Homo sapiens: one gene and its partner. The protein of the gene in region 1 purifies or fractionates together with the protein of each later gene. This does not show direct contact. Each region holds a gene or a part of one and is shown on either strand. Other genes may lie near its edges. The genes, in order: NYAP1 and ACOT9.

What was found.
Region 2: the proteins of NYAP1 (region 1) and ACOT9 purify together in Homo sapiens (affinity purification with western blotting, with the first as the bait; one study listed by BioGRID). This does not show direct contact.

Annotation. Positions count from the first base shown.
Region 1 is NC_000007.14:100,482,407-100,486,860, forward strand, and holds the start of NYAP1 (neuronal tyrosine-phosphorylated phosphoinositide-3-kinase adapter 1), read left to right. Parts: upstream 1-1,520; 5' UTR 1,521-1,595; intron 1,596-2,821; 5' UTR 2,822-2,905; coding exon 2,906-2,973; intron 2,974-4,414; coding exon 4,415-4,454. UniProt on the Homo sapiens protein: Activates PI3K and concomitantly recruits the WAVE1 complex to the close vicinity of PI3K and regulates neuronal morphogenesis.
Region 2 is NC_000023.11:23,705,026-23,708,828, forward strand, and holds part of ACOT9 (acyl-coenzyme A thioesterase 9, mitochondrial isoform a precursor), read right to left. Parts: intron 2,920-3,803; coding exon 2,852-2,919; intron 1,715-2,851; coding exon 1,603-1,714; intron 834-1,602; coding exon 743-833; intron 570-742; coding exon 484-569; intron 56-483; coding exon 1-55. UniProt on the Homo sapiens protein: Mitochondrial acyl-CoA thioesterase. Catalyzes the hydrolysis of acyl-CoAs into free fatty acids and coenzyme A (CoA), regulating their respective intracellular levels. Regulates both mitochondrial lipid and amino acid metabolism.

The DNA of each region.
Region 1 (4,454 bases):
TCGTTTTTTTTTTTTTTTTCTCTGAGACAAAGTCTCTCTCTCTCACCCAGGCTGGAGTGCAGTGGCCCGATCTGGGCTCACGTCAACCTCTGCCTTCCAGGTCAAGCGATTCTCCTGCCTTGGCCTCCCGAGTAGCTGGGATTACAGGCGCAGGCCACCATGCCCAGCTTATTTTTTCTATCTTTAGTAGACACGGGGTTTTGCCACGTTGGCCAGGCTGGTCTCAAACTTCTGATGTCAGGTGATCCACCAGCCTCGGCCTCACAAAGTGCTGGGATTTACAGGCGTGAGCCACCGCGCCCCGCCAGTGTTAAGAGTATTTTATGTGTGGCCCAAGACAAATTCTTCTTCCAATGTGGCCCAGGGAAGTTAAAAGAGTGGACATCCCCGGACTAAAGCGTCTCTCAGAGAGGTTGCACGATCTGCCTAAAGCCACACAGCAAGACTGCAAAGACGCTGCCATGGAAAGTAGCATTCGCAGGCTCCAGGGATCAGGCCGTGCCTATCTTTGCCGTGCCCATTTTCCAGCCCGTGGAAGGTACAACCGAGGTCTTCTCGAGCTGATTTACCCCCGCTGCAGAGCTGTGAGCCCAAGGGATTTCAGAGGGAGTTATTTCTAGGGGAGATAATGAGAAAAGAAAAGATAAATGAGAAAAGGGGAGGTCGAGGTCACGTCCCGTAGCGGCCCCCCGACAGTGCCAGGGTGGTAGCCGCGGTGGCCACACTCAGGTCGACCCTGGTCGTTGCGAGCGGCGCCGGGGGAGTCAAAGGTCACGAGAGGAGGACTCGGGCCACGGGGGCGGATAGCTTTGAGCCCAGACGGTGGAACGAGATCCGGGCACCCCCGGGAGGCTGCAGGGGGAGGCAGCCGATTCCCCCGCGAGCCAACTCAGGTGCTCTCCTGGCACCTGGGGGCGGTGGGGAAAGGGGGCGCGGCCGCCGGAGCACGCCCCCTGCTGGGCTGAGCCGCCGCCCGTCCCGTTCCCCACCCTCGGAGCCCCTCGGCCCGGAAAGCGGCACCCCCTGGCGGCCCCAGCGCCTCACTGCACCCCGGGCCCCGCAGCCGCAGCCTCGGCCCCGGACCGACGCTGGGTGCGGACCCGGGGCGCGCCGGGCGTACGGGTTGCACGGGGTGCACGGGGTACACGGTGCGGGGGCGTGGGCCCCAGGCTGCCGCTGGGGGGCGCCGCCGCACGCCGCTCCGCCGGGGCCGGGGAGACCGAACTCAGCACCGACCGGCCGGGCAGGGGGCGAGGGGCGGCGAGGAGCGGACGCCCAAAGACCGCGACGGGCTGGCGCCGGGCCCCCAGCGCCCCACGACCTTCCTCCGAATCTGCCCCCGCAGGCTCCGCGGCTCCCCCGCCCCGCGCCCCAGCCCCACGGCCCCGCGCCGCACGGCCGCTCCCGTTCCGTCCTTGGAGGGTGTGGAAGGGTGGGTTTGGGGCCGGGGGCGGGTCTGGGGGCGGACCCGGAGGCGGGGCTGTCTCTGCGGCAGGGCCCAGCTTCGCTCCCCCCGGTCTGTCTCTGTCTCTCCTCCTCCCTCCTCCTGCTCCGGGCGGAGCCCGGCATGGGGGGGCCGGCGCCCGGCAGGCCAGGTACGGTGATGGAGAACCTGGGGAGGCTTGGTGCAGGAAGGTTGGGGTGGGGGGACAAGGGACAGGGAGGATTGGCGGAGCGAAAGGCGGAGAAGCCCAGGGTAGCAGGACAAGGGGAAGGGGAGGGGTGCCAGGAACCTGGGGCCCTTGGATGGAGAAGGGGGATGAAGCAGGCCAGGTTTGGAACAGGGGAAGGGGGAGGACGGCTGTAAGGAGGGGCGCCTGGGAGGAGAAGTGAGGCTGAAGGCGAAAAGAAGAGTGTGGGTTTGGGGGAAGGAAAACCGGAGCAGGTATGGAGGCCGCAGCCCAGAAGGTAGCAGTGGGGCCAGACTGGAGCCCCCCGGGTGGGATTGAGGGGCGGGGACTGGAAGAGGAAAACCAGGGGGCCTCCCAAATCCTGGAGGAAGAAGAAGGTGATTGGGGCCATCAGCGAGGGAGGGAGGCAGAGACTAAACCATTGCTAAAGGGCCAGGGAGCCAGAATCGGGGTGGACCAAGGCCCAGGCCCGGGGAAGGACTGGAAGTGGGGGAAGGCAGGCAGTGGAGATAGATGGATGGGTGGTATTTTAGATACCCAACTCAGGGTGTCTCCCATCCTTCCTTCAGCGTCCCCACCCTGCCCTCATGAGATCCCCCTACAGCCCAAGATAGGGGGGAGAGTCTGACCATCTCCCCTTTTCCCAGTGGGGTGCAATGTACGCAAGTAGGCCCTGGGCATAACTCTGCCTGTAGGTGTGTCCAGTTCTGTGTAGCAGATTTGTGTGTGTCTGGAGGTCTGTGGGTGTGTCTGTGGGTGTTTATGTCTGTGTGCCTGTCTATCCCTAGGTTTCTGTTTACCTATGCCAATCTCTGCGTCTGGTCCTCTGTCTGTAGATGTGGGTCGGTGGCTCCGTGGTTTGTGTGTCTGAATGTGTACTTGTGTAGCTGAGGGGTTGCAGTCCGTTTGTGGGGCCTGTATGGGTGGTGGATCGGGATGTCTTTACACAAGAAGGGAATCTGTGTTGACCTGGTCTCTCCAGAGTGTGTATTTGGGGCTCTGAACACCTTTGTCGGGGTCTGTGTCTGTCTGTCTGTGGGTCCTCGAAGCTGTGTTGGGTTTTCTGTCTGTGTTTTCCTCTCTGAGGACCCGAGTCATGTCTCTTCTCCGTTTTCTCTCTTTCATTCATCCCTGGCCCCCACCCATCCCACCTTTCTTTTTTTTCCGTTCTCACCCACCCCGCCCGCCAGTGGATCCGGGACCCAGGGAGGGCCGCCCCCCGGGCCTGGTGGCACTGAGCAGGGCCCCCCAGCCCCCACCTCCTGCCCCACGAGATGAACCTCCTCTACCGAAAAACCAAGCTGGAGTGGAGGCAGCACAAGGAAGAGGAGGCCAAGAGGAGGTAAGGCTGCACCCCAGACTGCTCCCTTCCCTTCCGCACCTCTGCCTGCCCCCTCACTGGGCCACAGCCCTTCTCGGGGGCCGGCAGCCTTGTCATGAGTGAGCTCTCTGATCTCAGAGTCAGTACGGAATGGCCAGGATTGCACACACTGTCCTGGCCCAACTCCTGCTCTCCTGTGGGGGGGTTTACAGCCTAGGAGCACCCCTTTGGTTGTTCCCCATCCCCAGAGGCCCGAGTCACTCCTTCCTGACTCACCTCTGGCCTGTAGCCCTTCTCCTTTCTGCAAATTTGGGGCTGGCTGCGGGCTCTCCTGTCACCTGACCTTGGAAGGGGCAGGCCCCGCCTCTCTCCCAGGGTCTAGGGAAGGGGTCATTTCAGGGGCATCAGAGAACATCCACTTGGCCTCCTCCCAGTTTTCCCTGCTGGGGGAGGTGAGTGGTCAAGTGATGGGGTTGTGTGTGTGGTGGGCAGACATGCAGGCTGGGCCTTGCCAAAGAGCCAGGGCAGGGGACGACCTCCAGACCCCTGCAATCCCTGTCTGCCTCCCCGCTTGCCCTTCCAGGGACCTGGGGCCTGGCCTCTCCCATCCTTCTCTCCTTCTCCTCTTCTCTCCCATTGACTTCACAGCCACTTGGAGCCTGACTCACAGCCACCTCCCTTTTCCTTCCTCGCAACTGTGGAGTTTAATTCTTGTTGTTAATTAGATTAATCAGAGTGATCGCTGCAGCGATCTCTCCCTAATGAAGGGCTAGTAGACAGGGCCTTAATGAGTGCCCACCCCACACAGCTCTCCTCTCTTCCCTGCCAGCCGCCCCCCCAACCCTCTGCCACCCTCCACTCAGACAGAAGCTCAGGGACAGTGGAATGGAATGGGGGTGAGCCGGGGAGGCTGACAGAGAGAGAACAGCACCAGGGGAGAGGGAGGAAGAAGGATGGGCCAGGGAGGGAGGCTGCTCTGGTCCTGGAGGGGCACATCCTGCATCTGGGAGAGGAGGTGTGCCGTGGGGGCAGAGGTCACAGTGGCTGGGCAGGAGGGGTAACCAGAGGCCAGGTGTGGGCCACTGTGAGAGTGAGAGGGGCCAAGGAGCTGTGGGGGGCAGGCGTGTCCATCTGTGTTACCTGGGTTTGTATCTCTACCTCTGCACAAGGCTGTCCACACAGGTGCCCAGGCTGGGATCCGCCAGCCCCAGGGATGCTCCCCTGCAGGCATACTCACCCCTCTTCTCATCCCTGCCCCCAACTGCCTTGTGTTTTTAAAGCCCAAGATTCTGCCTGAAGCCCCTTCATTGGTGCCCTGGACCTTCTGGCAACCCTGTCCCCACCCAGGCTCCCGTCCTCTTCCCTGGGAAGCCACAGGGTTGCTGACACCTCTTGGGGTGGAGAAGGGGGATGCCCAGGTCCGAGGCCCTTCCTCCACTCCATCGTGGCCTTCTCTCCCCAGCTCCAGTAAGGAGGTGGCCCCCGCTGGCTCGGCTGGGCCC
Region 2 (3,803 bases), on another chromosome or scaffold:
AACAGGTTTCTGAAACATGATGTCATCTACTGCTACCACAAACGGTCGAGAACCACTGTTGGGGGAAAGGACAGAATTTGGGGTATATTGCAAAATTCAGATGATCTCAATTGTTTCCTCTAACAACTAGCTGAAGCAAAATAAAAATGAACGAAGAATAAAGTTAGAGAAGGGGGAAAAGATCCTACCAGTGAGAAATGGTAAGAGACGCCATCGTGAGCAGATTAGGGCCAAAATAACTATATCTTTTCCTTTCTACATATCATCACTGTATTTTCTCAGTAGTTTTTTTAATGTATGAACTTACAAAGTCAGAGAAACAACCTTCTAAAATGAAGATCAAATTCAGCTGGTATCAGTGTGGTATTCATTCAAAAACATAACATATTCCCACACACACCCAGACTGGTCCGAAATGTTTCATTTCAGTGGGGTGATATAAATTGCTTCTCAGAAGTTAAGGCTGCCTTACATGTAACTCACCCAAAGCTACAAGCAGTAGCCCACGCAAGTTCATATGCCTTCCTCATAAGGAAACCACCAAAGATCCGATTGAAAATGTTCCGCTCCTACAGGACATAAATAAATATCAATAAATACAAAACTTATGGCCACCTTTGTATACAGAACAGAGGAATTAACAATGCCACAGGACAAAGGCCAGTTTAAAGGTGTGTCAAATCTTGGACAAATATCATGAACGGAAGCTATCCTATTCGGATTTCTCACTAAATTATAATACCTGAGGGTGGCAAATTTCCAAACTCTTCAGTTTTGAATTCTCCATCCACACTGCATTAGAGGGTAAAACTCGACTCCGAAAACTTATAGTCCTGTACAAATGAATATTTATTAAACCCTGTTAATGCCATGGTTCTCTTGTTGAAAAGTAAAAACATTTGCAAGTCACTCCCAATACACTCAGACAACTGTGGCTCTGGAGAAGGCCAAGGTTTAGGCCAGGCGCGGTGGCTCACGCCTGTAATCCCAACACTTTGGGAGGCCGAGGCAGGCAGATCACATGAGGTCAGGAGCTTGAGACCAGCCTGGCCAACGTGGTGAAACCCCGTCTCTACTAAAAATACAAAATAATTAGCAGGCGTGGTGGCGGGCGCCTGTAATCCCAGCTACTTGGGAGGCTGAGACAGGAGAATTGCTTGAACCCGGGAGGCAGAGGTTGTAGTGAGCCAAGATCACGCCACTGCATTCCAGCCTGGGCAACAGGGTAAGACTCCATCTCAAAAACAAAAAAGGTCGGGTGTGGTGGCTCACGCCTGTAATCCCAGCACTTTGGGAGGTGGAGACAGGCAGATCACCTGAGGTCAGGAGTTCAAGACAAGCCTGACCAACATGGAGAAACCCCGTCTCTACTAAAAATACAAAATTAACCAGGCGTGGAGGTGCATGCCTATAATCCCAGCTACTCGGAGGCTGAGGCAGGAGAATCACTTGAACCCGGGAGGCAGAGGTTGCAGTGAGCCAAGATCGTGCCATTGCACTCCAGCCTGGGTAACAAGAGCGAAACTCCGTCTCAAAAAAAAAAAAAAAAAAAAAAGGCCAAGGTTTAAATGTTTTCCCAACGTGGAATCTCACCATCCTTACTTTGGATCCAGTGTGCTGAGAAACATCTCATGTATGGTGGTCCTCTCCTCAGCGCTGGGGGCCATTTTCAGTAACGACGTGGAGCTGAAGGCAATTCTTCTCCCCTTGTTCACTGGAACAAGGGAGAATAAGGAGCAATGATCAGGACGGTCGCACTACAGCACACGGTATTCTGACCTGGGATGCCTTTCAAAATCTCACTGAAAATTATACACGTATCCAAGAGAAAACTGCAGAGGCCACATAAAACTCCCAGTGAGTCTTTGGTTCCACATGGAAATTATATTGGTTCAGTGTGAGATCACTTGATATCATCCTGATCCAGAGCCCTGACCTGCAGTTATCCCATTGAGATGCATTTCTCACTTCATTAAAACGGAGAAAACAGGCCAGGTGCAGTGGCTCATGCCTGTAATCCCAACACTTTGGGAGGCGGAGGCAGGAGGATTGCTTGAGTCCAGGAGTTCAAGACCAGCCTGGGCAACATAGTGAGACCCCTGTCTCTACAAAGAAAAATTTTAATTAGCCAGGCATGGTGGCACGTGCCTATAGTCCTAGCTACTCAGGAGGCTGAGGTGGGTGGATAGCTTGGGCCCAGGAGATCGAGACTACAATATTGTTCATTGTAGCCTCAAACTCCTGGACCCAAGCCCAACTCCAGCCTGGGCAACAGAGCAAGAACTGTCTAAAAAAAAAAAACGGAGATAACAAATTACTTCACTTAATAAATATTGTCTGATCAATAAAATCATTCAAAGTATGGACTCCAAAGAAAAAAGAATAGCATATTTTTAATTTCAATAAATTATTGGTATGAATAAGACATTTGGGCCAGGCACAATGGCTCACGCCTGTAATCCCAGCACTTTGGGAGGCCAAGGCAGGCGGATCACGAGTTCAGGAGATCGAGACCATCCTGGCCAAAATGGTGAAACCCCATCTCTACTAAAAGTACAAAAATTAGCTGGGTGTGGTGGCGCGCACCTGTAGTCCCAGCTACTCAGGAGGCTGGGGCAGAAGAATCACTTGAACCCAGGAGGCAGAGGTTGCAGTGAGCCGAGATGGCACCACTGCACTCCAGCCTGGCAAGAGACAGAGAGACTCCATTTCAAAAAAAACAAACAAAAAAACAAACAAAAAAAAGACATTTGACTGGTATGAAGAGCCCATATAAAATCTTAAATAATCTCTTCTGCAGCGTAATTAATGTGCTTTTCAAATTTATTTTATTATAAACAAATTAATGTACATTCCCCTTGTCTAAAGAGCTCCTCTTCCTCTGGGCTTTCAGGGATGAGTGGATTTACAAATGCCGGCCTAAAAAGAAGAAAAAAAAGAATATAATTTAAGATATGCCATTATCTAATAAAACTTGAAGATGAACAATCACCTACTACTTTTAAAGAATCTGCTTTTCATTTTGGGTAGTGCTTACTGCTTGCCTTACATGTGAACGCTGGAACAATTAGGGAAGCCTTACAGTTACAGCCTTAATTGCACACTAGAAACTTAACATTATAAAAAGGATACTGGCATCTGCTAAATGTTTAACCTGATTCTAATCATGAGGAAACAGTCAAATATAGGTTGTAGAACACTCTACAAGAAAACTGGCTTTAGGCCGGGCGTGGTGGCTCACGCCTGTAATCCCAGCACTTTGAGAGGCCAAGCCGGGTGGGGATCACCTGAAGTTGGGAGTTTGAGACCAGCCTGACCAACAAGGAGAAACCTCGTTTCTACTAAAAATACAAAATTAGCCGGGCGTGGTGGCACATGCCTGTAATCCCAGCTACTCGGGAGGCTGAGGCAGGAGAATTGCTTGAACCCAGGAGGTGGAGGTTGCGGTGAGCCGAGATCGTGCCAGTGCACTCCAGCCTGGGCAACAAGAGCGAAACTCTGTCTCAAAAAAAGAAAAAAAAAAAAAAAAGAAAAAGAAAACTGGCTTGAACTCTTTAAAAATATCAATTTTTGAAAGACAGCAAATGGCAGAGAGACTATTCTAAAGAAACAGGATAACCAAATGCAATATACAATCCTTGATGGATTGGGTCCTGAATCAGGAAGATAGCTATAAAGGACATTTTAGGGACAACTGGTGAAATCTGAATACGGATCACATATTAAATAACTGTATCACTGTTGAATTTCTCAGATATAATAAAGGCATTGAGGTTATGGAGAAATACCTGGTTCTTAGGAAA